3 separate regions of the Homo sapiens genome follow, and regions 1 and 3 are each linked to region 2. Evidence: fine-mapped expression QTL. A gene starts in region 2. Each other region holds a variant in brackets. All regions are shown on one strand. Distances are from middle to middle.

Region 1 (10,544 bases), 79 kb before region 2:
TAAGCAACATGGTGAAAACCCATCTCTACTAAGAATAGAAAATTAGCTGGGTGTGGTGGTGCATGCCTGTGACCCCAGCCACTTGGGAGGCTGAAGCAGAAGAATTGCTTGAACCGGGGAGGCAGAGATTGCAGTGAGCCAAGATTGTACCACTGCACTCCAGCCTGGGCAACAGAGTGAGACTCCATCTCAAAAGCAAAAAAAGAAAAGAGAAAGCCTGAATTTTATGACAAATCCAATCTGAAAAAGACCACTAGGGATGTAGCTGTAGTTTAACAAAATTAGGCTTATTAACTTGATGTAGCAAGAGAGACAACACACCAGAGAAACTGTGGAGGGTCTCACCAAACAAAAGAAGAAATGGGATTATCATAGGATTTGGAGGAGGTTGGAGTTTAGGTGAAATTGAAATGAAGCCGTGTTGATAGGTGCAAAGCAAAGCTGGCAATGTGTAAAGGGGTTAACATCTGGCGTGGGCTGAGAATCAGACTCAGAGTCTTGTTTCCTTGGACACCACAAAGGTAAGACAAATATAGACTATTGTGTCCAAAAACCCTTTATCTGAAGCTCTGCATCTGGGTAGATACAGGCTATGTCTCTGTATCAAACCTGGCTCTTCTGACCCACTAGAGAAGCGTGGGATGTTCTGCTCTCACTGATGTGATTTCAAACAGCAAAGTTTCTGACAGTCTCTGATTTTAGAGAATGAGATTCCTTTTTTTTTTTTTTTTTTTTTTTTTTTTAGGTGGAGTTTCACTCTTGTCGCCCAGGCTGGAGTGCAATGGTGCGATCTCGGCTTACTGCAACCTCCGTCTTCTGGGTTCAAGCAATTATCCTGCCTCAGCCTCCTGAGTAGCTGGGATTACAGGTGCCCGCCACCACACCCAGCAAATTTTTGTATTTTAGTAGAGATGAGGTTTCACCATGTTGGCCAGGCAGAGAACAAGATTTCTCAGCACTGTCTTTTTTTTTTTTTTTCTTTGAGACAGTCTCGCTCTTTGGCCCAGGCTGGAGTGCAGTGGCGTGATTTTGACTCACTGCAACCTCTACCTTCCTAGTTCAAGCAATTCTCCTGCCTCAGCCTCCAGAGTAGCAGGGATTACAGGCATCCACCACCACGCCCAGCTAATTCAGCCTCCCAAAGTGCTGGGATAGCACTACGTCTTTGATGTTAATTGACAAAAGAAAGTTTGACAGATTCACCTTTTTTTTTTTTTTTTTTTTTTTTGAGACGGAGTTTTGCTCTTGTTGCCCAGGCTGGAGTGCAATGGTGTGATCTCGGCTCACTGCAACCTCCACCTCCCAGGTTCAAGTGATTCTCCTGCGTCAGCCTCCCTAGTAGCTGGGATTACAGGCATTTGCCACCACGCCCAGCTAATTTTGTATTTTTAGTAGAGATGGGGTTTCTCTATGTTGGTCAGGCTGGTCTCAAACTCCCGACCTCAGGTGACCTGCCCACCTCGGCCTCCCAAAGTGCTGGGATTACAGGCATGAGCCACTGCGCCCGGCCTCACCTTTTTTTTTTTTTTTTTTTTTGACAGAGAGTCTTGCTCTGTGTCCCAGGCTGGAGTGCAGTGGCATGATCTTGGCTCACTGCAACCTCCACCTCTCAGGTTCAAGCAATTCTCCTGCCTCAACCTCCTGAGTAACTGAGACTACAGGTAAGTGCCACTACACCCAGCTAATTTTTAAATTTTTAGTAGAGACAGGGTTTCACCCTGTTGGCCAGGCTGGTCTTGAACTCCTGACCTCAAGTGATCCACTTGCCTCGGCCTCCCAAAGTGCTAGGATTACAGATGCAAGCCATTGCGCCCAGCCCAGATTCACATTTGATCTCAATCATCTGACCTATGTCCAGAATATATAAAGAATTCTACAAACCAGCCAGGCGGGGTGGCTCATGCCTGTAATCCCAGCACTTTGGGAGGCTGAGGAGGGCAGATCACAAGGTCAGGTATTCAAGACCAGCCTGGCCAACATGGTGAAACCCCGTCTCTACTAAAAATACAAAAATTAGCCAGGCGTGGTGGTGGGCCTGTAATCCCAGCTACTCAGGAAGCTGAGGCAGGAGAATCGCTTGAACCTGGGAGGTGGAGGTTGCAGTGAGCCAAGATTGCACCACTGCACTCCAGCCTGGGTGACAGAGTGAGACTCCGTCTCAAAAAAAAAAGGAATTGAAGTATTGACATTGTGCCTTCTTGAAAAATGCATTGCTGGCTTTTCATGATTTAGAAATCAAAAGCAAAAAATTATTGGCCTTGACATTCTAATCATTATTCAAAGAATTAAGTTATTGACTATATGGGTTTTAAAAGACTTGAATTGATAAGACTTGGAGATTTGAACAAAGGAAAATTGAATGCTGGCAGTTTTAGGCAAGATTCCCTGACTCTCTGCTGCCCATGTGTGGAGAGAACTGGGTCATCACAGCTCCCAGCCTCCCTCTGAGGATGGGTAGAGGTCCCTTGGGGGCCCGCTGGCCAGCCACATTATGAAATTACATATATCCCACTGCCCTTTACTCTGAAACTATTTTGGAGAATTATCCAAGGGTTCTTCCTGACTCATTGGGAGGAAGTGGACACTCAGCCTTTGCAACCCTACTGTGCCTTGGCAACGCCTGACAGTTACATGTCAGCAGGCACTGTCTGTCTGACTCAATAACAATGATAAATGTGTGTGGTTTCAGAACTTCCTCCCCACCTCCCACCACCCTCATGATGCGGAAGTCTCTGTTCAGCTTGACTCCATTTCTTCCCTGCTCTCACTCTGCCCTTGCCATACCAGTTCTCAGGCTTTGCAAGACCTGGAGCTTGCAGGCAGATCACCTGAGGTCAGGAGTTCAAGACTAGCCTGGAGAACATGGTGAAATCCCGTCTCTACTAAAAATACAAAAAAATTAGCCAGGCATAGTGGCGTGTGCTTGTAATCTCAGCTAGTTGGGAGGCTGAGGCAGGAGAATCACTTGAACCCAGGAGGTGGAGGTTGCAGTGAGCCGTGATTGCGCCACTGCACTCCAGCCTAGGAGACAGAGTGAGACTCCGTCTCAAAAAAAAAAGAGCTGGAGTGAGAGTAAGGATGGGAAGAGAGTTGTAGGGGACGGCTGAGATGCCAGAAGTGGTTTAGGAGAAAAATGGGGCCAGTTTGTAACGTGTAGGGGCAGTGGATGGGAAAAGAAAAAAAAAAGAGAATTTGAAGGAGTATTGTTGATACAATCACTTTGGAGAGCAATTTGGCAATTGGTAAAGTTGAAAATGAGCATGTCCTCCCAGTCAGCATGTCCATTTCTTGGAATATACCCTAGAGAAACTCTCCTACATGTGCACCAGGAGACATGTCCAAGGACATCCACTGAAGCACTGTTCACAATCACAAAAAATTAGCTCTGCTTTAAATATCCATGAGGAAGGAATAAAGAATAATAAAAATTTAGGCAATGGGATATGCTACAAACAGCAGCAACGAACTAGAGATAGACCTCAAAAACACAACATTAAGGCCAGGCGGGGTGGCTCATGCCTATAATCCCAGCACTTTTGGAGGCTGAAGCAGGCAGATCACTTGAGGTCAGGCATTCGAGACCACCCTGGCCAACATGGTGAAACCCCATCTCTACTAAATATATATATATATATATGTGTGTGTGCATATATATATATATATATATATATATATATATATATATATATATTAGCCGGGCATGGTGGTGGGCACCTGTAGTACCAGCTACTCAGGAGGCTGAGCCAGGAGAATCACTGGAACCCGGGAGATGGAAGTTGCAGTGAGCCGAGGTGGCACCACTGCATTCTGGCCTGGGTGACAGAATGAGACTCCATCTCAAAAAAAAAAAAAAAAAAAAAAAAAAAAAAACCCACAACATTGAGTGAAAGAAGCAATTTGCAGGACAGTCCATACAGCATGAAGCTGTGCATGTATTTTTAAAAACCAAAACAATGCAATATATTGGTTTTGGATATTTATATATATGATAAAAACATAACAGCACAGAATAGAAGGACAAACACCAAACTCATATTATCAGTTAGGATAGGTTAGGTCCATGCCTCTGTGATAAATAACACCCAGTCTTAGTGGCTTATAACAGAGTTTATTTCATGGTTGGGCTACATGTCCATCAGGGGTTAGCAGAGCCTCCAGTTCACATCTCACTCTGGGACCAGGCTGACCAGCAACAACCAGATGTCACAGCAGAGAGAACGAGAGCCTGACAAATTGCTTTGTCTCTCAATATTTCACCTTGGCAAGCCTAATGGCCAGACCCAACTTTTTTTTTTTTTTCCCCAGATAGACAGGGTCTCACGGTCACCCAGGTTGGAGTACAGTATGTGAGCACCACTCACTGAAGCCTCAACCTCCCAGGCTGAAACAATTCTCCCACTATAGCCTCCCGAGTAGCTGGGACTACAGTCAGATGCCACCATGCCTAGCTAATTATTTTATTTTATTTTTAGTGGAGACGAAGTCTCATTATGTTGTCCAAGCTGGTATCAAACTCCTGGGCTCAAGCAATCCTCCTGCGTTGGCCTCCAAAGTGTTGGCATTACAGGCATGAGCCATCCCATCCAGCCAAGGTGATAGATGTATTATTATTATTATTTTCTTTAAGACAGAGTCTCCCTCTGTCACTCAGGCTGGAGTGCAGTGGCATTATCACGGCTCACTCAATCCTCAATGTCCTTGGCTCAAGCGATCCTCCTACCCTCAGCCTCACAAGTAGCTGGGACTACAGGCATGTGCCACCATGCCTGGCAAATTTTTTACTTTTTGTAGAGACGGCATCTCTCTATGTTGCCCAGGCTGGCCTTGAACTCCCAGGCTGGTCTTGAACGCCCAGGCTTAAGTGATCCTCCCACCTCGGCCTCCCAAAGTGCTGGGATTATAGGTGTGAGCCACTGTGCCTGGCCCAAACCTAACTTTAAGGGGGCAAGAAAGAGGTATCCTATTATGTGCCCAAAAGCAAAAGCAGTAATTGATGGATAAAAACCCTCTGTCCATCATGGTGATGACTTTTGGGAAGAATACAAAGGTGCTTCCACCTTAACTGTGAAAACTGGAAATAAAATCCTAAGCCCTCTCAACCACTGAATGGGCCTCCTCTTGGCCAAGAGGACCCCAGAGAAATCTTAAAATTTGAGTTCCCAGCCATGACAGGATGGGAGTCAGGCACACCTCATTAGACTTCCTTTTGGTGGTGTAGACACAACTGACCAGCATTAATGTTAAAAATTAGGCCGGGCGCTGTGGCTTATGCCTGTAATTCCAGCACTTTGGGAGGCCAAGGTGGGCGGATCACCTGAGGTCAGCAGTTTGAGACCAACCTGGACAACATGGCAAAACCCAATCTCTGCTAAAAATACAAAAAATTAGCCGGGCATGGTGGCCCATGCCTGTAATCCCAGCTACACAGGAAGCTGAGGCAGGGGAATCACTTGAACCCAGGAGGCAGAGGTTGCAGTGAGCCGAGATCGCGGCATTGCACTCCAGCCTGGGTGACAGAGTGAGACTCCGTCCCCAACCCCCGCAAAAAAAAATTAATGTTAAAATAGAGATCTTACAACTGACAGAACAGATTCTCAGTGGCAGTAAGATACCAAATTATAACAAGAGCTAAGGTCATGCCAGATAAGGGTTAAGACCCCTACACTTAAAAAAATAAGCTATGTTCTAACTGCCACAAGATTTTTCTTTCTTTGTTTCTTTTTTTGGAGACAAGGTCTCAATCTGTCACCCAGGCTGGAGTGGTACAGTGGTGCAATCACAGCTCACTGCAGCCTCAACCTCTCGGGCTCAAGTGATCTTCCCACCTCTGCCTCCCAAGTAGCTGGGACTACAGGCATGTGCCACCCCACCCAGCTAAGATGGGGTTTTGCCATGTTGCCCAGGCTGGTCTCAAACCCCTGGGTTCAAGCAGTCCTCCAGTCCTCCTACCCTAGCCTCCCAAAGTGCTGGGATTATAGTCATGAGCCACCGTTCCCAGCTGCCTGAGATTTTTCCTTTTCTCTAGCAGCTCAACAAGCACTGGCCTTGAGATCAATAATATTAAAACAACTGCAGCTCATCCACCACCAGACCCTAACAGACCCCCTGCTCCTGCTCCAAAGCCATAACTCCAGCTTTGATTGGTAAGGACACAGATTTCAGTAACTTTCTCCTGATAAGAAGACCACAGAGCATGGACTGGTTCTGTCTGGTTTACAGAAGCTGCACTTGAGTACCTTCATGTTCCTGCTTCACCTTTTGATGCACAGGGTCTTGTTTTCATGCTTAAAGAGGTGGGGTCTCACTATGTTGTCCAGGCTGTAGTGCAGTGGCTATTCACAGGTGCGATCATAGTGCACTGCAGCCTTGAACTCCTAGCTTCAAGCTACCCTCCTGTCTCCACCTCCTGAGTAGCGGGGACTATAGGCACATGCCACCATGCCCAGCAGTAATGCATTTAAATGTCAAGTCTCCACCCCACAGTGAACATGGGACACATGTAACATACGTTTGTTCAGTACACATGTGTCAGGACCCCCTTTGTTAATATTTACAGCTCCTTTTTTTTTTGAAACGGAGTTTTGCTCTTGTCACCCAGGCTGGAGTGCAATGGCACGATCTCAGCTCATTGCAACATCTACCTCCCAGGTTCAAGCAATTCTCCTGCCTCAGCCTCCCGAGTAGCTGGGATTACAGGCACCCGCCACCACATCTGCCTAATTTTTGTATTTTTTAGTAGAGACAGGGTTTCACTATGTTGGCCAGGCTGGTCACGATCTCCTGACCTCAAGTGATCCACCCACCTCAGCCTCCCAAAGTGCTGGGATGACAGGCATGAGCCACTGCGCCCAGCCCACAGCTCCTTCTATAACCTGTTGAATATGTATGTTTAGCCAACTCTTTCAGCTTCAAGCTTCCACTCCAATCCCTCCTCCTTTGGAGTGCCTGTTTCTCCTCTTTGCAGGAGGCTACACTTCCCAGCCTGTCAGCATGGCCACCATGCAGGCTGTAACCCTTTATAAGATATAAAATCCCCTTTCCAAATTTATAGACCCTGGCCAGGTACAATGGCTCACGCCTGTAATCCCAGCACTTTGGGAGACCAAGGCGGGTGATCACTTGAGGCCAGGAGTTCGAGACCAGCGTGGGCAACATGGAGAAACCTCATCTCTACTAAAAATACAAAAATTAGCTGAGCGTGGTGGCGTGCGCCTGTAGTCCCAGCTGCTTGGGAGGCTGAGGCAGGAGAATCGCTTGAACCCGGGAGGCAGAGGTTGCAGTGAGCTGAGATTACACCATTATACTCCAGCCTGGGCGACAGAGCGAGACTCCAACTCAAAAACAAAAAAAATAAGCCAGGCATGGTGGTGGGTGACTGTAGTCCCAGCTACTC[G/A]GAAGGCTGAGGCAGGAGAATCGCTTGAACCTGGGAGGCGGAGGTTGCAGCGAGCCAGGATTGTGCCACTGCCCTCCAGCCTGGGTGACAGGCTGGATCTAAAAAATTATAGATCTCTTGATTTTTTTTAGTGAATGATTGTAATTAATATTTTTTAGAATATGAAGCAAAATGTGAAATTTGTTAATTCTGAAGGGAGGATACCTATCTGAGTCTCTGCTATATTATTCTCTATGTTGCATCTTTTTCAGTTGTAGCTGAAAGTATAAAGGGAGGCTACAAATGGGCCATTAATATCAAAGTCATTTGTGTGTGTCCTTGCTGGGACAATCTTCCCTTTCATGGTGTTCAAAGAGAAATATGAGGAAAGAGATTCCGTTGAATTTTTTTTTTTTTTTTTTTTCAGACAGAGTCTTGCTCTGTGCCCAGGCTGGAGTACAGTGTCACAGTCTCAGCTCACTGCAGCTTCTGCCTCCTGGACTCAAGTGATTCTTCCACCTCAGTCTTCCGAGTAGCTGGGACTACAAGTACCCACCACCACACCTGGCTAATTTTTATGTTTTTTGTAGAGATGGGGTTTTACCATGTTTCCCAGGCTGGTCTCAAACTCGTGGGCTCAAGTGATCCACCCACCCTGGCCTCCCAAAGTGCTGGGATTACAAGTATGAACCACCAGGCCCAGCCAGACTCCCTTGTTTTATGTTGCTTTTGTCTGTGTAACAGCATTCTTTTTTTTTTTTAAGAAGGAGTTTCGAACTCGTGACCTCAGTTGATCTACCTGCCTCAGCCTCCCAAAGTGCTAGGATTACAAGCATGAGCTACTGCACCTGGCCAGCGTTCTTCCTTTCAAAACTCAACTGTTTGCTGGCTCTGGGCTCGTGCGCAGCATTGTGTGTACCTGTGTGTGTATACCTGTGTACCTGTGTGTGTGTCTTCTCCCCCCTTCAGTAAGGGCTCTTCCTAGGGTTGCCTGACTTGTCTCTGTTTTTCCAGCCCTGAACTTGCCACAAGGCAGGTACCTAATACATGTTTAATGAATGACCGTGATATGCTCATGACATGGTTAGGCTTTGTGTCCCCACCCAAATCTCACCTTGAATTGTAATCCCCATAATCGCCATGTGTCAAGGGAGAAGGTAATTGAATCATAGGGCGGTTCCCCCATGCTGTTCTCATGATAGTGAGTGAGTTCTCGCCAGATCTGATGGTTTTATAAGGGGCTCTTCCCCCTTTGCTAGGCAATTTTCCTTCCTTCCACCTTGTAAAGAAGGTCCCTTGCTTCCCCTTCATCTTCCACCATGATTTTAAGTTTCCTGAGGCCTCCCCAGCCATGCTGAACTGTGAGTCAATTACACTTCTTTCCTTTATAAACTACCCAGTCTCGGGCAGTTCTTTATAGCAGTATGAACACAGACTAAGAGAGCTATCTTTAAATAATGAGCCACTTCAGGGCAGGAACCATGTCTCCTTACCCCTCTGAGCCCTCCTCTAAAACAAGGAATAAGTGTTTGTTGAATGGACGAATACCAAAGCCCCCAGCCCATCAGTGGAAGCAGAACACACATTGTCCTTCCCACTCTACCATGAGCCTCCTCAAGGGCTGGCAGGGTCTGTTTATCTGCAGAGTTTTACCATGTTTATATGCCTGCATTGAAAAGCTACTGACTTATGTGCGACTATATACTAAGGCGACCAACTTGTCCCATTTTTCCTGGTACCTTCCCAGTTTTAGCATTAAATGTCCAGTGTCTTCACTCCTGAAGTTCCAGGCAAACCAGGATGGTCAGGTCACCGCACAGCAACTCCCTTCTCTCCCAGCATCATTTTTCCCTCATCTTCGTATGAAAGGGTTGGACCTGGTCCTGTCTCTGCATATGAGATCTAAGATTTTAGGAACAGGCCAGAGGGGAAGAGGTGAGTCAACAAAGAAAGAAAGATTCAACTTGGAATTTTCTGAGAGATCTTTATTCTTTATTCAGGATGTGGGATCGATCAGCACTGCCAGCTGGGCCTTGGTTCTAGTGGCTTGCTATGGTCTGGAAAAGTTGGGGGGGCAGACAGAATAGTCAATTTAGGAGCACAGGTTCTGGAGTCAGATGAAACTGGGTTCAACTTCCAGCCCTGCTGTGTGACCCTGGGAGAGGGATTGACCTCTCTGAGCCTCAGTTTCCTCCTCTATGTAGTAGGGATAGAACTTACCTCATGGGGGGGTTCTTGATTAAATTGTTAACTAAGGTTCTCTTTACAATGCCCAGCACAAATTTAGATGGGATGTGTATGTATATATATATGTATATGCATGTGTGTGTATATGTGTGTGTGTATATATATACGTATTTGTGTGTATATATACGTATGTGTTTGTGTATATATATATACGTATGTATGTGTATATATATAAACAAAATCTATATTTTTTTTGTTTTTTTGGTTTTTTTTGAGACAGAGTCTCACTCTGTTGCCCAGGCTGGAGTGCACGATCTCAACTCACTGCAACCTCCACTTCTTGGGTTCATGCCATTCTCCTTCCTCAGCCTCCCAAGTAGCTGGGACTACAGGCGTACGCCACCATGCCTGGCTAATTTTTGTATTTTTAGTACAGATGGGATTTCACCGTGTTAGCCAGGATGGTCTCAATCTCCTGACCTCGTGATCTGCCCACCTCGGCCTCCCAAAGTGGTGGGATTACGGGTGTGAGCCACCACGCCCGGCCTTTTTTTTTTTTTAAGACAGAGTCTTGCTCTGTCACCGAGGCTGGAGGGCAGTGGCACAATCTCAGCTTACTGCAACCTCTGCCTCCTGAGTTCGAGCAATTCTTCTGCCTCAACCTCCCAAGTAGCTGAGATTACAGCGACGCACTACCACGCCTGGCCAATTTTTTTATATTTTTGTAGAGACAGGGTTTCACCATATTGGCCAGGCTGGTCTCGAACTCCTGACCTTGTGATCCACCTGCCTTGGCCTACCAAAGTGCTTGGATTACAGGCATGAGCCACCGTGCCTGGCCTTATATATATATTTTTTTAACATGGGTCAGGGAACCAAGGGATTAAATGGTCTATAAATCATCACTGTTTTTTTGTTTGTTTGTTTGTTTTTGTTTTTGAGATGGAGTCTTGCTCTGTCACCCAGGCTGGAGTGCAGTGGCGTA
Region 2 (9,241 bases):
GCAATTGATAATGATGAAGGGTAGTGGGGAAACATCAAGTTGGGGCAGGGGGTCAAATACAAGAGCTTTCAGAAGATTCACGCTTCTGCCTGAGCTGGGAGAAGCGCACTTGTGCCTGGCCAGAGTTGAGAACAGCCCACAGGGAGGCAGAATGGGTGTGGTTGAGAATGGGAGTTTGTAGAATCAGACCGACATGGACATGAATCCTGGTTCTACCTCTTACTGACTGCATGACCTGGGCAAGCCACTTCATCCCCTGGGCCTCAGTTTTCCCAGCTGGAAAGGGAGGGGAATAATAAAATGTACTGCCTTGCCTGCTCCCCAGGGTTTATCTTTGTTCCAAGCACAAACCAGAACAGGGACATTTACACTGTGTGCCACGTTTGAACTAATGTCTTGTTCTTTCATTTAAGTAACAATTATCCAAATGCCAACTCTGTGCCACACACTGTGCTCTTCACAGGGGATATAATTGGGACCAAGACAGAAACAAGACCTTCATGCCCTCTGCCTTCATTATGCCTCATAATATTAAATGATCTTCCAAATAATTACAATGGTCAAAAATGCTACAAGAAAAGCATGGCGGGGGGGGCGCTGTGGGAAAGTGTGGTGGGGAACACGACCTCGCTTGGGAGGTCAGAGAAGATTTCTGTGGTCATGTGATGTTTGGACTCAATCTTAAGGGAGAGTAGAGTGAAGGGGGATGGGTGTTAACTGGGAAAAGCACTTAGGAGAGGGAACAGCATCTGCAAAGACTATGGTGGGGAAGGGCTGTGGCTGGATTGATGGGCAGGACTAGATCATGCCAGGCCTTGTGGGGTCCCCGCCCTCTCCATGGGAACTTTTGCTGCCTGCTTAGACCCACCTCCTGCCTCCTCTTCCTCCTCTTCTTCAGTACTATCTTCTTGTTTTTTCTCCTCCATCTCAATTCTCTTTCACACCAATTTCTGACTCTTCATTTTCACCCAAGGACATATTGTTACTCTATTAGCATTTGTTTTCCCACATGGACATAGAAACTCTCGTGGGCAGTGTTTAGTTTCACTATTGAATGAATATAGGGCCACAGCTAGCCTTACAGTGCCTTCACTCATATCAGCAAAAAGTACCCATTCTGGGCCGGGTGCAGTGGCTCACGCCTGTAATCCCAGCACTTTGGGAGGCCGAGACGGGTGGATCACTTGAGGTCAGGAGTTCGAGACCAGCCTGGCCAACATGATGAAACCCTGTCTCTACTAAAAATACAAAAAATTAGCCAGGTGTGGTGGCATGTGCCTGTAATCCCAGCTACTTGGGAGGCTGAGGCAGGAGAATCGCTTGAACCCAGGAGGCAGAGGTTGCAGTGAGTTGAGATCGTGCCACTGCACTCCAACCTGGGCAACAGAGCAAGATTCTGTCTCAAAAAGAAAAAAAAAAGTACCCATTCTGGGCAGATGTAGCCCCACAACAGGGCCCATTACAGTTCCTATTTACCCACTTGGCTGCACACCTTTGTTCAGTGAACAACCTGCGCAACTGTCCACTGCAGCCCTGAATGAATGAATGAATGGACAAAGGAATGTGATTAAGATGAATGATAAGCTCTCAGGCAGAGAAAAGATTTGGAATGGGAGTGGAAGCCAGAAGATGAGTCCTACTGAATTTGGAGGAGTGGACAGGTAAGCCACAAACTCCAGCTGCTGGTTCCAGAACCCCCAACACCTATTCTCAGAAGTCAAGCTGTTTGACTATTTCTGCCTATCCAAGCTGTTGTAGTCTCTCCGTGCCCAGGGAACCTTGTATGAGACTTGAGTTGTTTCTCTCCTCGAGTGTGACCAGCACCCTGAACTCTGTGTACATACAGTGAGATTATGGGCGCCTCCAAGGTTTTGCCAAGCCCAGAAGGCCTTGTGCCTGCTCCTCTTCTTAGCCATATGAGGAGATAGCCAGGCTCTAGACAAAGCAACTTGAGAGCATTTGCTAAAGATATCAAGGACTGCAAACTAAAACAGACCCAGGCAAATCCCTTAGTGGGAAGGAGAGGACACAGAATAAATAGGTGGATGACCAATCCTCCGCTGCTGGAGCCGCCCTGGAAGACTTTCTCAACATGCCATATATTCCTGCTTTCTGCGTGTCAGCCCAGCTCCTTCCAGTCCCTAGTCGGCCTTACCATCTCTTTCCTCAACCCCTTTGAGGAAGGAAGACTTATAGCTCTGGGTTAGTCTTGACCAAACATCTACAAAGGGTTGCTTGTTTCCCTTTTTTTCCCCCTTTGCTCATGAGCAAATCATCCAAGAAGCCAAAGCTCTGGTACTTAAAGGGCCCGAGGTAGGGAACAGACACTGAGGCAGCTCATGAAATGCGATTTGTCACGGATGCTGACAAATCCATGGACAGGCAAGGCCTTGGAAAAATCCTGCCACTAGGGCTGGCCACCTGCCAGCTCTGAAGTCAGTGGAGTTTTGAAGCCTTTCTCATCGGACAGGGAGTTTCCAAGTGCAAACCTGGTGTACTCTCCCCTCAAATGGGAGGTCCCTGGGGTGGCTGTGGAGGCTGCTCCTCTATCAGACCTCAGCTCCCCAAGGGCCAAGTCATGTCTCTCTCTTTAGATTGGGAGCACACCAGAAATAGTAATAAGAGAAATGGCTACCACTTATTTCATGCTTACCAAGTGTCTGAAATGGCTGTGTTTTTTAAAAGAAATATATTAATTTATCTTAATTCTCATAACAACACTAAGAGAGACGTCTTAACGTTATTCTCATTTTCTACATGCAGAGACTGAGACATGGAAGTTGAATCATGTGCTCAAGATTGCACGGCTAGGTGGTGGAGGCAGGATTCTCTATCAGACTGAGAACAATACCCGGACAGGGACTATTCTTCCCCACACCTCTATCAGATTAAGAGTTTACTGAGGGCCAAGATTGGGCGTCCCTCCTCTGTCCACCCCTATCTCCCTGTGCGGATCAGAGATAGACCTTATTCAGTGCTGTGCCTGGAGCCTGGGTTGGGGCCAGGCAGTTGGCCTGACTACCGTGGATGCAATTTCTGTTCTTTACAACTCTGAGCTGGTCCCACAGAAATATGCCCCACAGGGCATATTTTGGAGATATCTTTTGGAGATAGGGGATCTATCTGGGATGGGGGTCAGGATGCCAGTGTTTTTTCAATCCCCCAGATGCCTGGATGAGAGGCCCCAATGTGCTTGGGAGCCTGCGGACCCCTATCACAGGGAACATAGCTTCCGGAGCCAGGCCTGGTGCCGCCCAGTGAGCTGGGCATTTCCTTCTGTCCACAGCTCACCTCACTCCTGGCTGCAAACCCAGCCATGAGTTTCTGGAACCTAGCAACTCTCACAGGAAACAATGGAAACTTCAGTTTTATTCTCCTCCTCTATCATTACTCAAAAGGTTTTCCTCAAAGCTACACACACATAGTTTTCCTCTCCACCCATCAGCCTCGGGCTGCCCTGGAAATTTCAGGCAGAAGAGGGGAGCTGAAGAGTAGGCAGTGAATAGGTCTGGGGGCTTGGTGCTGTTTGCTGCCTGCGGTTGGGTCAGAGACAGATCATGGGGCTGTGATTTTACCACCCACCCGAGCATCTGTGATGGGGCTTTGGCAGGGTCTGTCTGTCTGGGCCTGAGTGTGTGAGTTGGTGTGGTTCTGGCTCTGGGGCTGTGATTTATGTGACTCAAAGTTGGTGTGTGAGTGATTTACATGGAAAATGGTGCAGGTGGGGTGGGCAGCTCAGTTCAGTACCCAGTGCCCACTATGAGGCACTGTGATTAGTGGGTGAGAACAGGTAAAAGATACAGGCTGAGGCTGGGTGCGGTGGCTCAATGCCTGTAATCCCATCACTTTGGGAGGGCAAGGCGGGCAGATCACAAGGTCAGGAGTTCGAGACCAGCCTGGCCAACATGGTAAAAACCCCATCTCTATTAAAAATACAAAAATTAGCCAGGCGTGGTGGCACGCCTGTAATCCCAGCTATTCAGGAGGCTGAGGCCGGAGAATTGCTTGAACCCGGAGGCGGAGGTTGCAGTGAGCCAAGATCCCACCACCGCACTCCAGCCTGGGGACAGAGCGAGACTCCTTCTCAAAAAAAAAAAAAAAAAAAAAAACAAGCTGGTAAGCATGTAGGCAATGATGTGGGCCTGTGTGTGAAATGTGCGTGCCTGCGAGGAATCTATGTGAAAAGGCGTCCTCCCGCTCCGTGACTTGTTGGGATGTATGCGTGAGTGAGGGGCTGAGTGTGGTGTGAGGGCTGTCTCCTGTGTCCCTGGTGGAGGTGAGAGTTTGGAAGCGAGTTAAGTGTGCATGTGAGCCGGTGAGGATTGTTGGTACTTCAGAGTTGGGTCCAGAGTGTGAAAGTGTTCCCGGGTAGCGCACAAGTGTGTTCGTGCAGTAAAGTTATGGTGTGAAGGTGTTCTTGGGTGTGGAAGTTGGCGTGCACGTGTGGCGCGGAGCGGCAGCTGCGTGCGTGTGAGCGTGGGAAGGAGATCCCGGGATCTTCAAAAGCTGCGCGAGTGGAGTCGGCCGTGCGGGGCGTGCAGGGGCGTGGAAGTCGGCGGCGCGCGCGGGGAAGCGGGGGAGCCGGGGATCGGGGAGGCGAGAGCGCCTGGCCCGGCGGCCCCATCCCATGCCCGGGCCCGGGCCCCCGGTCCCCCGCCCCGTCCCATCCCATACTCCAGGCCGGGTTTGGCGGGGAGCCGGGCCGGGCCGCGGCCCGCGCGGAGGGGGCTGGGGGCCCAGACAAAGGCCTAGTAGGCTGCGCGGCCGGCTGGGGCGAGCAGAGCCCGCGGCCCGGGGGCGGTCCGTGGGCGGGGCCTGGCGCTCCGGGGAGGGGCGGTTCGGGGGCGGGGCCGGCGCTGCGGGGGCGGGGCGGGCGGGGAGGAAAGGGGGCGGTGGGGAGAGGGCCGCGCTGTCCCGAGCTGGCCGGCGAGCGGGCGGCTGCGGGCGGCGCGGAGCGGGCGGCGCGGAGCGAGCGAGCGAGAGAGCGGCGCGGGCCGGGCCATGGGGTGGCGGGCGGCGGGCGCGCTGCTGCTGGCGCTGCTGCTGCACGGGCGGCTGCTGGCGGTGAGTGTGCGGGGCAGAGGGGCGGGGGGCGGGGGCGGAGGGGCTAGGGGCGCCCCGGTCCCGCTCGCCGCCTCCCGCCAACTTGGCTGGGGCGCCCAAGGCTGCGCGGCGGGGACTCTGGCCCGGGACGGCGGCGCCCGCCGGGGACCCCGGGCCGGCGCCACCCTGCGGCATGGGGCTAATCCAGGGGGGCCACCAGTCAGGACCCTTCGTGGGGCTGGGGGCGGGGCTGGCCCGTGTGGGAGCCCGTGGGTCTCTCGGCCACGTTGCCGAGTGCTGGAGTCTCGCTGGGCATGGTCCGGCCTACCATTCCTGGGGACCAGGAGGGGAAACTTTGAGCAGGGTGGGAACTTGGCAGGACGAGGGAACCCTTCTGCGCCAGCTTGGCAGAACGGCCACTCAGTGGTGATGGGGACCCTATGAGTCTCGCTGAAACTTTACCACACCGTCTATCACCTTGGGGAGCTTGGACCCAGGTAGGCACAAGCAAAACTTTTGGGACAGAACTGAAGCTTGTGTGGAACACCCACGGGCCTTGGAGTCATACAGCCGAAGAGTTGAATCAATCCCTGCCTTTCACTGAGTAACTGTGTGACCTGGGGCACGCTAGTTAACCTCTCTGAGGCCAGCCCCACGTGGGTCAAGGGAACTCAAAATGCACGGCCTCAAAATGCATAGCTGCAGGGCGTTGCTGGACTGCGTGGAATGAGCTGCAAAGTGCGTGGTGCGGGGATGCAGTGCACCCTTGGGGGACCCGAGTTCCCCAGCTTTCCTCTTCCCAGGTCTCCAAGAGGCAGGGAGAGGCCTGCCCTTGCAGTCTAGTCCCCTACTCTGAGCTTAGGTGGAGGAAAAGGGAATTCTACGGTCAGGAATCCCGAGGCTTAGAAGGCACTTGGCCAGCAGAGGCCCTGAGGACCTGAGTGAACTTGAGGAGGACTGGGTGGGGTCGGTGGGCAGGGAGCTAGTGGCAGATGTGGGTGGGGGCACATCTGGGGAGCCGAGCCTACCGTGGGGAGCCACAGAGCCACCCCCACTCTCTCCGAGGTGCTCCTAGGCAGTCCCCATACCTGCCTCCCTGTTCTCTGAGCCAAGAGAGGGACTTTTCTAACCAGGCTGGTGTTTACCCAGGAACTGCCTGCCTGGCCTCACCTTCCTGGCTTCATCGCACCTCTACCCTCCTGAGTCACTCGTCAAGCCCCCACCCAGACCTGGCTCCTCACTGCTCTTGCCCCACCCACCCAGCACTTCTCCTCCCCCATCCCCACTCTGGGCAGCCTCCTCTGTCGTCCTCCTGTTTCAGCCTCTCACCCCAAAATATTCAGCAGGGCCATCCAGTAGCTCCCTAGTCTTGACCTGAACTTGCACTCCTGGCACTGACTTTTACTTTTCCCAACGCACCAACCTAGCACGTGGGATGTTTTCCGAGGCCCAACAGTCTTTCCTGACCTTCCCCCAGCTCTGCCCCCGATGAGGGGCTCCTCCATGCCCGGGTGCGGTAGGATGGCGGTGGGTGGAGTTGTTTGCTGTGTGCATGAGGAATTTCCACAGACATTCCTGGACCGTGGCAGATCATCTCATTCACTTGTTCATTCAACAGATCATCACTGAGCGACATTCCATGGCAGTCACTGGGAGTACAGAGGTTCATTCTTTGGGCAGATATTTGCCATGCACCTACTGTGTGCCAGTGAACCAGTGAACCTCGTGTGGTGCTAGGGGCTGGGGTGGGTTGGACCAGCAAGGACAGGCCCTGTCTGTGCCTTCCCAGCACTCACAGGCTGGTGGGCGGTAATTTAGACAAATAAACAGGCAGCTCCAATCCTGTGGGATTAGAGAGCCTTCTCAGCAACACATGGAGGGTCGCTGTCCCACCCCAGGCTGCTGGTGGTGGGCTGGAAAGAGCTTGGCCCCTGAAGTCTCTTTATAAAATTCTTTTTAAAAAGTTTTTCAGGCCAGGCGCGGTGGCTCATGCCTGTAATCCCAGCACTTTGGGAGGCCACGGTGGGCGGATCACGAGGTCAGGAGTTTGAGACCAGCCTGGCCAACATAGTGAAACCCCATCTGTACTGAAAATACAAAAATTAGACGGGTGTGGTGGCGCATGCTTGTAATCCCAACTACTCGGGAGGCTGAGGCAGGAGAATCGCTTGAACCCAGGAGGCGGAGGTTGCAGTGAGCTGAGACCACACCATTGCACTCCAGCCTGGGTGACAGAGTGAGACTCCGCCTCAAAACAAACAAACAATAAAAAGTTTTTCGGGGCCAGGCGCGGTGGCACACGCCAGTAATCCCAGGACTTTGGGAGGCCGAGGCGAGCGGATCATGAGGTCAGGAGTTCAAGATCAGCCTGGCCAGCATAGTGAAACCCTGTCTCTACTAAAAATGCAAAAAGTTAGCCAGGCATGGTGGCACGTACCTGTAGTCCCAGCTACTCCGGAGGCTGAGGCAGGAGAATGGCGTTAACCCGGGAGGCGGAGCTTGCAGTGAGCCGAGATCGCGCCACTGCACTCCAGCCTGGGCGACAGAGCAAGACTCTGTCTCAAAAAAAAAAAAAGAGGGCATCACACTTTGTTGCCCAGGCTGGTCTCAAACTCCTGGCCTCAAGCGATCCTCTCGCCTCGGTCTCCTAAAGTGTTGGGATGACAGGCATAAGCCATCATGCCTGGCCTGTCTCTGAAGTCTTACAGACCCAAGTATGAGTCTCTGGGCTGCGGTTTCTGGCTGTGTGATCTGGGGCGAGTTCCTCTCTCTGAGCCTTAGTTTCCAAATCTGTACAATGGGGTTGAGGAGTTTGTTGCAAGTCAAAAATGAGATCAATTCCTAGCCCAGGCTCCCAGCACACCTTGGACCCTCTTTGCCTGCTACCCTTGCTCTCATCTGCCCTTCAGTTTGGTCCGGAGCCAGTGGCTTATGGGGAAGGGTTGGGCACAGCAGCAGGGTGAGATGGGCCTTAGGGAGCTCCAGGCTTCCCCGGGACGGGGGACAGGACCACAGGAAGCTGATCTGTGATTAAGTGTGGGTGTAATTTCAGCTGTTGGGAGGTGAGGAGGCTTGCTGGAGGAGGGGGCTGGGCCTGGGTGACTCGGCAGGCCTTGGCCTGCTGACCCCTTTAGGGCGGCCCTGCAGGGGACAGGCGTCTTGAGGGAGCCTCGGTGGTGATTAAGGTGTTTTCCAGGGCCTAGGAGGGAAGTCGCTGAGATACCTGTTTCCTGCCTCAGCTGGATTTCCTCACTGGGGAGGCTGCCAGCTGAACTGCAGGAGCCTCCCCTTCCTGGCGGTCCCTCAGCCCTCCTCCACGCAGCCAGCTGCTCTGTCACCTGACACTAGCCTACTTGTTCCGTACCTGCAGCCGGCACAGGATGGGGTTTTGAGTGTGCCCTGGACATTCCCGGAGGGAAGGAGGGCAGGCTGCAGGTCTGTCTGCAGGGTAGAAGCTGGAAGGGGCAGAGATGGACCACCCCCCCATCCCTTAGGCCCATTTCCCCCTGTCTGGGGAGTTGTGGCCCCTGCCTGGCTTGGCCCGGGCCTGCTCTCAGGCTGAGCGCAGACAAGTTAGGATCTGTGGGTCTGAAGCCCTGCCCGGGAGACGGTGGAAAGAAGGTGGCAGGAGGTGACTGGGTTCAGGGCCCGGAAGACGGGTGAGCAAAGTGGAGGGGAAGGAGCTCTTGGGGTGCCAGGCTGGATGATGACACAGTAATACGGGTACTTCAGACTTACCCAGTACCCACTGTCTGCTCTGAGTTTCTCAGTGAATCCTCCCATTCACCTGTGTTTCCTGCTCACCACCTCCCTGCGGTGCTCAGAATTAGGTCCCAGCCCCTGACTTAATATAGCCTACGAGGCCCTGCAACACCCGGCCTCCTGCCACCTGCTCCTCTCAAACTCCTCCAGCTATACCAGTCTTTGTTTCTTTTTCTTTTCTTTTTTTTTTTTTTGAGACAGGGTCTCACACTGTCACCCAGGCTGGAGTGCAGTGGCACAATCACAGCTCACCGCTGCCTCAACCTCCCACGCTCAGGTGATCCTCCCACCTCAGCCCCCTGAGTAGCTGGGACTACAGACACCCTCCTCTACACCTGGCTAATTTTTGTATTTTTTATAGAGACAGGGTTTTGCCATGTTCCCCCAGGCAGGTCTCGAACTCCTGGGCTCAAATGATCCACCCCCTTCGGCCTCC
Region 3 (8,126 bases), 110 kb after region 2:
GGGTGGGGGAGGACAGGGAGCCTGTGGCTGGAAGGGGGCCCCTTACACAGTGGTGCCCACCCAGGGATGCTGCTGTACAATGGGCAGAAGCGAGTCCCAGGGAGCCCCACCAACCTGGCCAACCGGCAGCCCGACTTCATCTCCTTCGGCCTCGTGGGGGGAAGGCCCGAGTTCCGGTGAGACCCCCAGCCTCCCCACCTACAGGGGGACTGGACACAGGGCTTTGGTCTGGCAAGTGCTACCCTGGGCTCCATTATACAAAGGAGATCTGGAGGAAGGAGAAAATGTGGCCGTTACCCTTGGTGACCACCCAATCTGCTAGAGTAGGAATAGTATGCCAGTCAGGTGGAGGAGGGTGCAACCTCAGACTTGGGACTGCTGCAGGCCAGGATTCATTCATTCATTCATTCATTCATGCATGCATGCATCAGTTATTTGCTGACCACCCCATGTGTGCCAGGCACTGATACAGGTAAAACAAAACAGACCAAATTCTGGCTCTTGTGGGAAGAGGTGTATTCTCACTGGGGAAGAATAAACAAGCCATAAACAGAGAAACAAGGTGATCACAGGGAGAGAGGAGTCCTCAGAGGAACAAGGAGGCCAGGTGCTAGGCTGCAGGGCGCTGAGCCTGGGGTCCCTGTGGGCTGCTCTGGGAAAGCTCCCAGCAAAAGGATGTGGGGAGAGAAGATCCAGGGGATGGGTCACGGGGAGGGACGACAAGACAGGGACAGGAACGGGAACAGCCCCAGGGCTGGGACTGCAGGAAGTGGTGACATCCCTCCTCTGGGACCCCTCTACCCAACTGGGCCCCTAGCCCTTCTTACAAACCCCCTATCCACTCTCTCCTGCCCCGGCCTGCCCCACGGAGCAGGTTCGATGCAGGCTCAGGCATGGCCACCATCCGCCATCCCACACCACTGGCCCTGGGCCATTTCCACACCGTGACCCTGCTGCGCAGCCTCACCCAGGGCTCCCTGATTGTGGGTGACCTGGCCCCGGTCAATGGGACCTCCCAGGTGAGACCCAACCCCATACTGCTACTTCCAGCCCTCATCCCGCCCTTGCCCAGCCTCTGTTGCCATTCCTGACTTCCCCACCTCCCCAGGGCAAGTTCCAGGGCCTGGATCTGAACGAGGAACTCTACCTGGGTGGCTATCCTGACTATGGTGCCATCCCCAAGGCGGGGCTGAGCAGCGGCTTCATAGGTGAGCCCCCTCCCCACCTCCAGCTGAGGCTGGGCCTTACCTGGCTGGCTGGAAGAGCCCTGGAGAGCCTGGGAGGGCACCTCAGGGTATGGGCTGGGACACCCTGCCCTGTGCTCATCCTGCCCACTCACCTCCCAGGCTGTGTCCGGGAGCTGCGCATCCAGGGCGAGGAGATCGTCTTCCATGACCTCAACCTCACGGCGCACGGCATCTCCCACTGCCCCACCTGTCGGGACCGGCCCTGCCAGGTGACCCCACACCCCACACACCACCTGGCTGCCGTGGCCTCCACCCCTAGCCATGGCTGGCCCCTGTGGGGATTATGGGGGGTACTGAATGTTCTCGGCCTTACTTCTGGGGGCTGCTTTGCAGAATGGCGGTCAGTGCCATGACTCTGAGAGCAGCAGCTACGTGTGCGTCTGCCCAGCTGGCTTCACCGGGAGCCGCTGTGAGCACTCGCAGGCCCTGCACTGCCATCCAGGTACGCACCCCGACCGCCAGTCGCTGTCGCCCCAGGGCCTGCCTCTTCCCTTTGCTGCCTCCCCATATCCACCACCATCTCAACCACTGGGGCACTTCCACACCCCCCACTCTCACCTGAGCACTCTCCACTCCTCCCATGTACCCATCCCCCATCTCTGCTACCCGAAGGCCCTCACCCCATCACTGCTGCTTCCCCTCCTCCAGCCCTGCTGACCAAATTCTTACCACTACCCCGCCACCCAGGCACTCCCCCACCCCCAGCCCATCTTTTTTTTTTTTTTTTTTTTTTGAGACGAAGTTTCGCTCTTGTTGCCCAGGCTGGAGTGCAGTGGCACGATCTCAGCTCACTGCAACTTCCACCTCCCGGGTTCAAGCGATTCTCCTGCCTCAGCCTCCTGAGTAGCTGGGAATACAAGTGTCTGCCACCACCCCTGGCTAAATTTTTTGCATTTTTAGTAGAGGCGGGGTTTCACTACGTTGGCCATGGCTGGTCTTGAACTCCTGACCTCAGGTGATCCACCCACCTCGGCCTCCCAAAGTGCTGGGATTACAGGCATGAGCCCCCACGCCCGGCCCCCAGTCCCATCTTATTACCCAGGTGCCCACCCCATTACCCGCCACCAGGTGCTCCCCCTCCAACACTGTCCAGTCTCTGAAGAACCTGCAGACACACAGAGTCCCTCGACTGCTTCCCCTGCAGTCCTCCCTGTGGCCTCTTCTGGCTCCCGCCTTGCTCTGCTCAGTTCCCTCCTCCAAGGCCTCCCAGGAGGCTGGCCTGGCCCTCACTAGCCCAGCCCCCCGGGGTGTGATGGGCAGACCTCTGGCATCAGGACCCCCCTCCCTCCAGAGTCACCTCCGTGTCTTTTCACTGGCCTATGTGCCCCCCAGAGGCCTGTGGGCCCGACGCCACCTGTGTGAACCGGCCTGACGGTCGAGGCTACACCTGCCGCTGCCACCTGGGCCGCTCGGGGTTGCGGTGTGAGGAAGGTGAGGGGAGCCAGGCCTGAGACCCCCAGGGTCCTAGTGTCAGCTGGGGAGGCTGGGTGGGGCACTCTGAGGCCATGATGGGCCCTACGGATGATAAAACGATTCCCAAGCCAGAGGATCTCGAAGTCACCTGGCCACATGTCTGCCCAGCCTGAGCCCCTTATTGAGTGAGGGCCCCCAAAGAGGACCCCTGTCATATTGGAGCTCCTCCCAGCCCCGTGTGCAAGGGCAGGGGGGCTCCTGTGCCACTGCAGCTGGTGCCAACTGGTCCTGAGCCTCTGGGCCTGGAGAGTGAGGCAGGCAAGGGTCCCAGAGGAAGGCAGAGTAGCTGGACCCCACCCGAGGGTCCAGGATCCCCACTGCCTCAGCTGAGCTGTGGCTGCTGCAGGTGTGACAGTGACCACCCCCTCGCTGTCGGGTGCTGGCTCCTACCTGGCACTGCCCGCCCTCACCAACACACACCACGAGCTACGCCTGGACGTGGAGTTCAAGCCACTCGCCCCTGACGGGGTCCTGCTGTTCAGCGGGGGGAAGAGCGGGCCTGTGGAGGACTTCGTGTCCCTGGCGATGGTGGGCGGCCACCTGGAGTTCCGCTATGAGTTGGGGTCAGGTAAGCACCCAGCACCAAATGCGGGGCTCTGCACACCAAGCCTTGTGCCCCCCTCGGCTCTTCAAGCCCCAGGGAGGCATGGGAGGATAAATGCAGGGATCAGGGCAAGTCCCCTCTTCCTGTGCATTTCGTCTCTGTGTCACTTGAGGCCAATCCCTAGCCCTCTCTGAGCCATGGGCTCCTCATCTGGAATACAGAAGGCTGTAGGGCATTCCCCATCTGCTCAGGGCCCTGTTTGTGGTGGAGAGGGCAGGGAGCCCCGTGTGCCCCCATGTGCCCAACCCTGCCTGGCATCCTCCCCAGGGCTGGCCGTTCTGCGGAGCGCCGAGCCGCTGGCCCTGGGCCGCTGGCACCGTGTGTCTGCAGAGCGTCTCAACAAGGACGGCAGCCTGCGGGTGAATGGTGGACGCCCTGTGCTGCGCTCCTCGCCCGGCAAGAGCCAGGGCCTCAACCTGCACACCCTGCTCTACCTGGGGGGTGTGGAGCCTTCCGTGCCACTGTCCCCGGCCACCAACATGAGCGCTCACTTCCGCGGCTGTGTGGGCGAGGTAAGAGCAGCCTCCTCGGGACAAGCGGGAGGGGAGGGGTGCCAAGCCTTGTGTCCCCCTCGGCTCTCCAAGCACCTTGGCATTGGGCCCCTCCACCTGCAGCCACCCACGGGCCCTGGGCCAGGACACTGTACCTCTGAGCCTCAGTTTCCTCCTCTGTAAAATGGGCATGATCACACCTACTTTGAAAGGTTGGGCAGAGGATTGTCTGCACTGACGGATGAATGTTTCTAGCACACAGTAGGCACTCAACTCCTGCGCCTCCCTCCCCACACCGAGAATCCATGCTACCACTCAGGGCCCAATGTGGGCTCCCAGCTCCCCTCTGCTGCATTCTTCT[C/T]CCTGCTGGTACACCTGGGTCTCTGCCTCCCAGGCCCCTTTAGTCCCTCGGTGTCCCTGTCCCCACAGGTGTCAGTGAATGGCAAACGGCTGGACCTCACCTACAGTTTCCTAGGCAGCCAGGGCATCGGGCAATGCTATGATAGCTCCCCATGTGAGCGCCAGCCTTGCCAACATGGTGCCACGTGCATGCCCGCTGGCGAGTATGAGTTCCAGTGCCTGTGTCGAGATGGATTCAAAGGTGGGAAAGCCTGCCCAGGGCACCGGAGGGGAGGGGCACAGGTGGTCAGCGACACCTCCAGCCCATGCCCACCCACCCACTCGCCTCTGCCCTGGCCCACAGGAGACCTGTGTGAGCACGAGGAGAACCCCTGCCAGCTCCGTGAACCCTGTCTGCATGGGGGCACCTGCCAGGGCACCCGCTGCCTCTGCCTCCCTGGCTTCTCTGGCCCACGCTGCCAACAAGGTACCCAGGCCTGGCTTCTCTCCACTTCATCTCTGTCTTGGGGCCCCGGAGCTCGACATAGTACCCACGGGTGTCTATGCCCACCAACTGGACCCTGCCCTTCTCCATAGGCTCTGGACATGGCATAGCAGAGTCCGACTGGCATCTTGAAGGCAGCGGGGGCAATGGTGAGTACTTGCCATGGCCTCCTCCCCAGCTTCAGCTCAGCTCACTCTTCCAGTTACCCCACACCCTCAATTCTGGCCTGCAAGCAAAACAGCTTTATATGAGGAGCTTGCTGGGCAGAGAGACAGAATGAAGACCACAGCCATGTGGAGCTAGGGCCTGCCCCACACTTACTGGCTGGGTGACCTTGGGCAGGCCTTTGAAACCACTCTGACCTCAGTTTCCTCCTCTGTATTCATGTATTCAGTCAACAAACTATTGTTGCCCATCCTTGCCCTGAGAGCAGTAAATATAAGATGCATAAAGCAAGACCCTCATTCCCAAGAATTCCACCGTCTACTGAAAAGCTAAGGAAACAGTGAAGAGTGAATGCTGATTGAATGTTTACGGACACTGTGCTAACCCCTTTACAGACACATCTCTTCTTATGTATCACTAATATAATAGGCGAGGCAGTGGTATAGTGGGTAAGAGTATAGACTTGGAGCCAGCCTGCTTGGGTTCAAATCCTAGCTCTCCCACTTACTAGCTGTGGAACTTTGGGTGAGTCGCTTAACCTCTCTGTGCCTCATATAAAATGGAGATGAGTAACATCTTTCCCTAAAGATTTGGATAAAATTTTATGTGAGAGTAAAATTACTTAGTGCATTTTTTTTTAAGGTGGAGTCTTGCTCTTTCACCCAGGCTGGAGTGCAGTGGCACAATCTCGGCTCACTGCAACCCCCGCCTCCCAGACTCAAGCGATTCTGCTGCCTCAGCTTCCTGAGTAGCTGGGATTACAGGTGCCTGCCACCACACCCCGCTAATTTTTGTATTTTTTGTAGGGATGGGGTTTCACCATGTTGGCCAGGCCTGTCTCTAACTCCTGACCTCAGGTGATCCGCCCCCCTTGGCTTCCTAAAGTGCTGGATTACAGGCGTAAGCCACCGTCCTAAAGTGCTGGATTACAGGCATAAGCCACCGCGCCCGGCCACTTAGTGCATTTTAAATGCCTAGAACAATGTGTGGTACAGAGTCAGTACAGAATGTTAGCTGTTGTTAATATTATGTTCAGCTGGCCGGGCACACTGGCTCACGCCTGTAATCCCAGCACTTTAGGAAGCTGAAGCGGGCAGATCACCTGAGGTTGGGAATTTGAGACCAGCCTGACCAACATGGAGAAACCCCATCTCTACTAAAAATACAAAATTAGCTGGGCGTGGTGGCACATGCCTATAATCCCAGCTACTCCGGAGGCTGAGGCAGGAGAATCGCTTGAACCTGGGAGGTGGAGGTTGCCATGAGCCAAGATTGCATGCACCATTGCACTCCAGCCTGGGCAACAAGAGCGAAACTCCCTCTCAAAAAAAAATACTATATTCAGCTGGGTATGGTGACTCACGCCTATAATCCCAGCACTTTGGGAGGCTGTGGCGGGCAGATTGCTTGAGCCCAGGAGTTCCAGACCAGCCTGGGCAACAAGGCGAAATCCTGTCTCTACAAAAAAATACAAAAAGTAGCTGGGCATGGTGGTGCTCATCTATGGTCCCAGCTACTCAGGAGACAGGCAGGAGGATTGCTTGAGCCCAGGAGTTCAAGATCAACCTGGGCAACACAGGGAGACCTCATCTCTACAAGAAATTTAAGAATTAGCTGGGTGTGGTGGCACATGGCTATGGTCCCAGCTGAGGCAGAAGGATCACTTGAGCCCAGGAGGTCGAGGCTGTAGTGAGCTACAATTGTGTCACTGCACTCTAGCCTGGGCAACAGACTGAGACCCTGTCTCAAAAAAATAAAAAATAAGGCTGGGTGCGGTGGCTCACACCTGTCATCCCAGCACTTTGGGAGGACAAGGTGGGTGGATCACCTGAGATCAGTTCGAGACCAGCCTGGCCAACATGGCGAAACCCCATCTCTACTAAAAATACAAAAATTAGCCAGGTGTGGTGGTGCACACCTGTAGTCCCAGCTACTCGGGAGGCCAAGGCAGGAGAATTGCTTGAACCTGGGAGGTGGGGGTTGTAGTGAACCAAGATTGTGCCACTGCACTCCAGCCTGGGCCACGGAGCGAGACTCCATCTCAAAAATAAATAAATAAAATAAAAATTATCTATATATAATATTCATTCATAGGGTTGTTGTAAGGATTGAGTTAAATGCAGTGGTGTCTGTAGCTGGATGGGACGCTCCCCGCACAGCCACATCATAGGTGTTAGGTAAATGTCAGCCGTTCTCCTCATCATTTGGTGGAGGGTAGCAGAGGGTCCCCTACTCTTGTCCCCTGCCAGAGCTACTGTGGCCAGTGCCGGCCTGTGGGATGGGTCATGAGCAGATAGGGCTGGGGGGGTGTGGAGCCACACACAGTATGGACATCCTGGGCCAGTCACTCGCCCAAGCCTGCCTGCTCTTCTGTAAGATGGAGAGAACACCAAGGCTCTGAACCATTTATTGCCACAGTCCAAGGTGACCAACGGTCCCAGTAGCTCCGGACTGAGGGGTTTCTTGGGATGTGGGACTTTCAGGGCTAAAGCCAGACAGAATTTGGCAAGTAGAATGGCGGGTCACCCGACACGGATCCTGTTGACTACACAAAATAAAATAAAATAAAATACATTGATTTAAGGAAAGCAATTATGCTGAAGTAAAGTAATCAAAACATGTTTTAAGTTTCCTGACTTGCTATATATGTGCTTCTTTATTAACACATCAAATAACAAGATCTGGTGATCTCAGTAGCTACCACAATTTCAAAGCAGCAATATGTGTAAATGATATTTTGAAATATTTGCAGCTACTGTCATGTGATAAGCAAATACTAGTAACAAAGTTGCAGGTCCTACCACTGCTACTTTGGTTTCTTGCCTACATCTCATTGAAAGAACTGCTCAATTTCAGTGAGAAGTGAGTGAAATTGAGGTGTAATGCTTTCCCATCCAAGGTCATAGGCTCCCTGAATTCTGTTGGCAGCCCCCGTGGGTCCCCAGGGACTGCAGGCTCGGAGCCCCCTAGTCCTGCATGTTGGCGTGGAGGTGGGGGTCAGGGGAACTGACGGGGGATTTTGATGCCTGATGCAGCAGGTATGGCACCACCCTCCTCTCTCCCACAGATGCCCCTGGGCAGTACGGAGCCTATTTCCACGATGATGGCTTCCTCGCCTTCCCTGGCCATGTCTTCTCCAGGAGGTGAGACTGGCATTGGAAGGGCCCATGGGCCTAATGGGGAGGATGGGAATCTGGGACTTCTGTCCCCTCACCCGCTCTTCCTCCGCAGCCTGCCCGAGGTGCCCGAGACCATCGAGCTGGAGGTTCGGACCAGCACAGCCAGTGGCCTCCTGCTCTGGC

What was found. PIP is the estimated chance that this variant, and not a neighbour inherited with it, causes the effect.
Region 1: its variant is the best candidate, but not a certain one, in a credible set for the expression of HSPG2 in whole blood (INTERVAL, PIP 0.51).
Region 3: its variant is the best candidate, but not a certain one, in a credible set for the expression of HSPG2 in whole blood (INTERVAL, PIP 0.63).

Annotation. Positions count from the first base shown.
Region 1 is chr1:22,011,335-22,021,878 of GRCh38, reverse strand. CELA3A (chymotrypsin like elastase 3A) reads right to left here. Exons shown (of 8, transcript NM_005747.5): 8 at 9,337-9,429. The coding sequence ends at 9,412. Among named protein-coding and RNA genes, the nearest start is that of LINC00339, 8.6 kb to the left of the region's middle. RefSeq lists a silencer at 2,574-2,633 and an enhancer at 2,834-2,923. The variant G/A (reference allele first, on the strand shown) is at 7,394.
Region 2 is chr1:21,932,978-21,942,218 of GRCh38, reverse strand. It overlaps HSPG2 (heparan sulfate proteoglycan 2), which reads left to right and starts at 4,909. Exons shown (of 97, transcript NM_005529.7): 1 at 4,909-5,064. The coding sequence starts at 5,002. RefSeq lists a silencer at 4,521-4,870 and an enhancer at 5,618-6,459.
Region 3 is chr1:21,824,545-21,832,670 of GRCh38, reverse strand. It overlaps LDLRAD2 (low density lipoprotein receptor class A domain containing 2), which reads right to left. Exons shown (of 5, transcript NM_001013693.3): 5 at 7,446-8,126. It overlaps HSPG2 (heparan sulfate proteoglycan 2), which reads left to right. Exons shown (of 97, transcript NM_005529.7): 81 at 65-176; 82 at 875-1,019; 83 at 1,109-1,208; 84 at 1,347-1,456; 85 at 1,581-1,689; 86 at 2,580-2,678; 87 at 3,067-3,288; 88 at 3,592-3,836; 89 at 4,245-4,416; 90 at 4,519-4,641; 91 at 4,752-4,808; 92 at 7,892-7,967; 93 at 8,056-8,126. Among named protein-coding and RNA genes, the nearest start is that of LDLRAD2, 16 kb to the right of the region's middle. The variant C/T (reference allele first, on the strand shown) is at 4,177.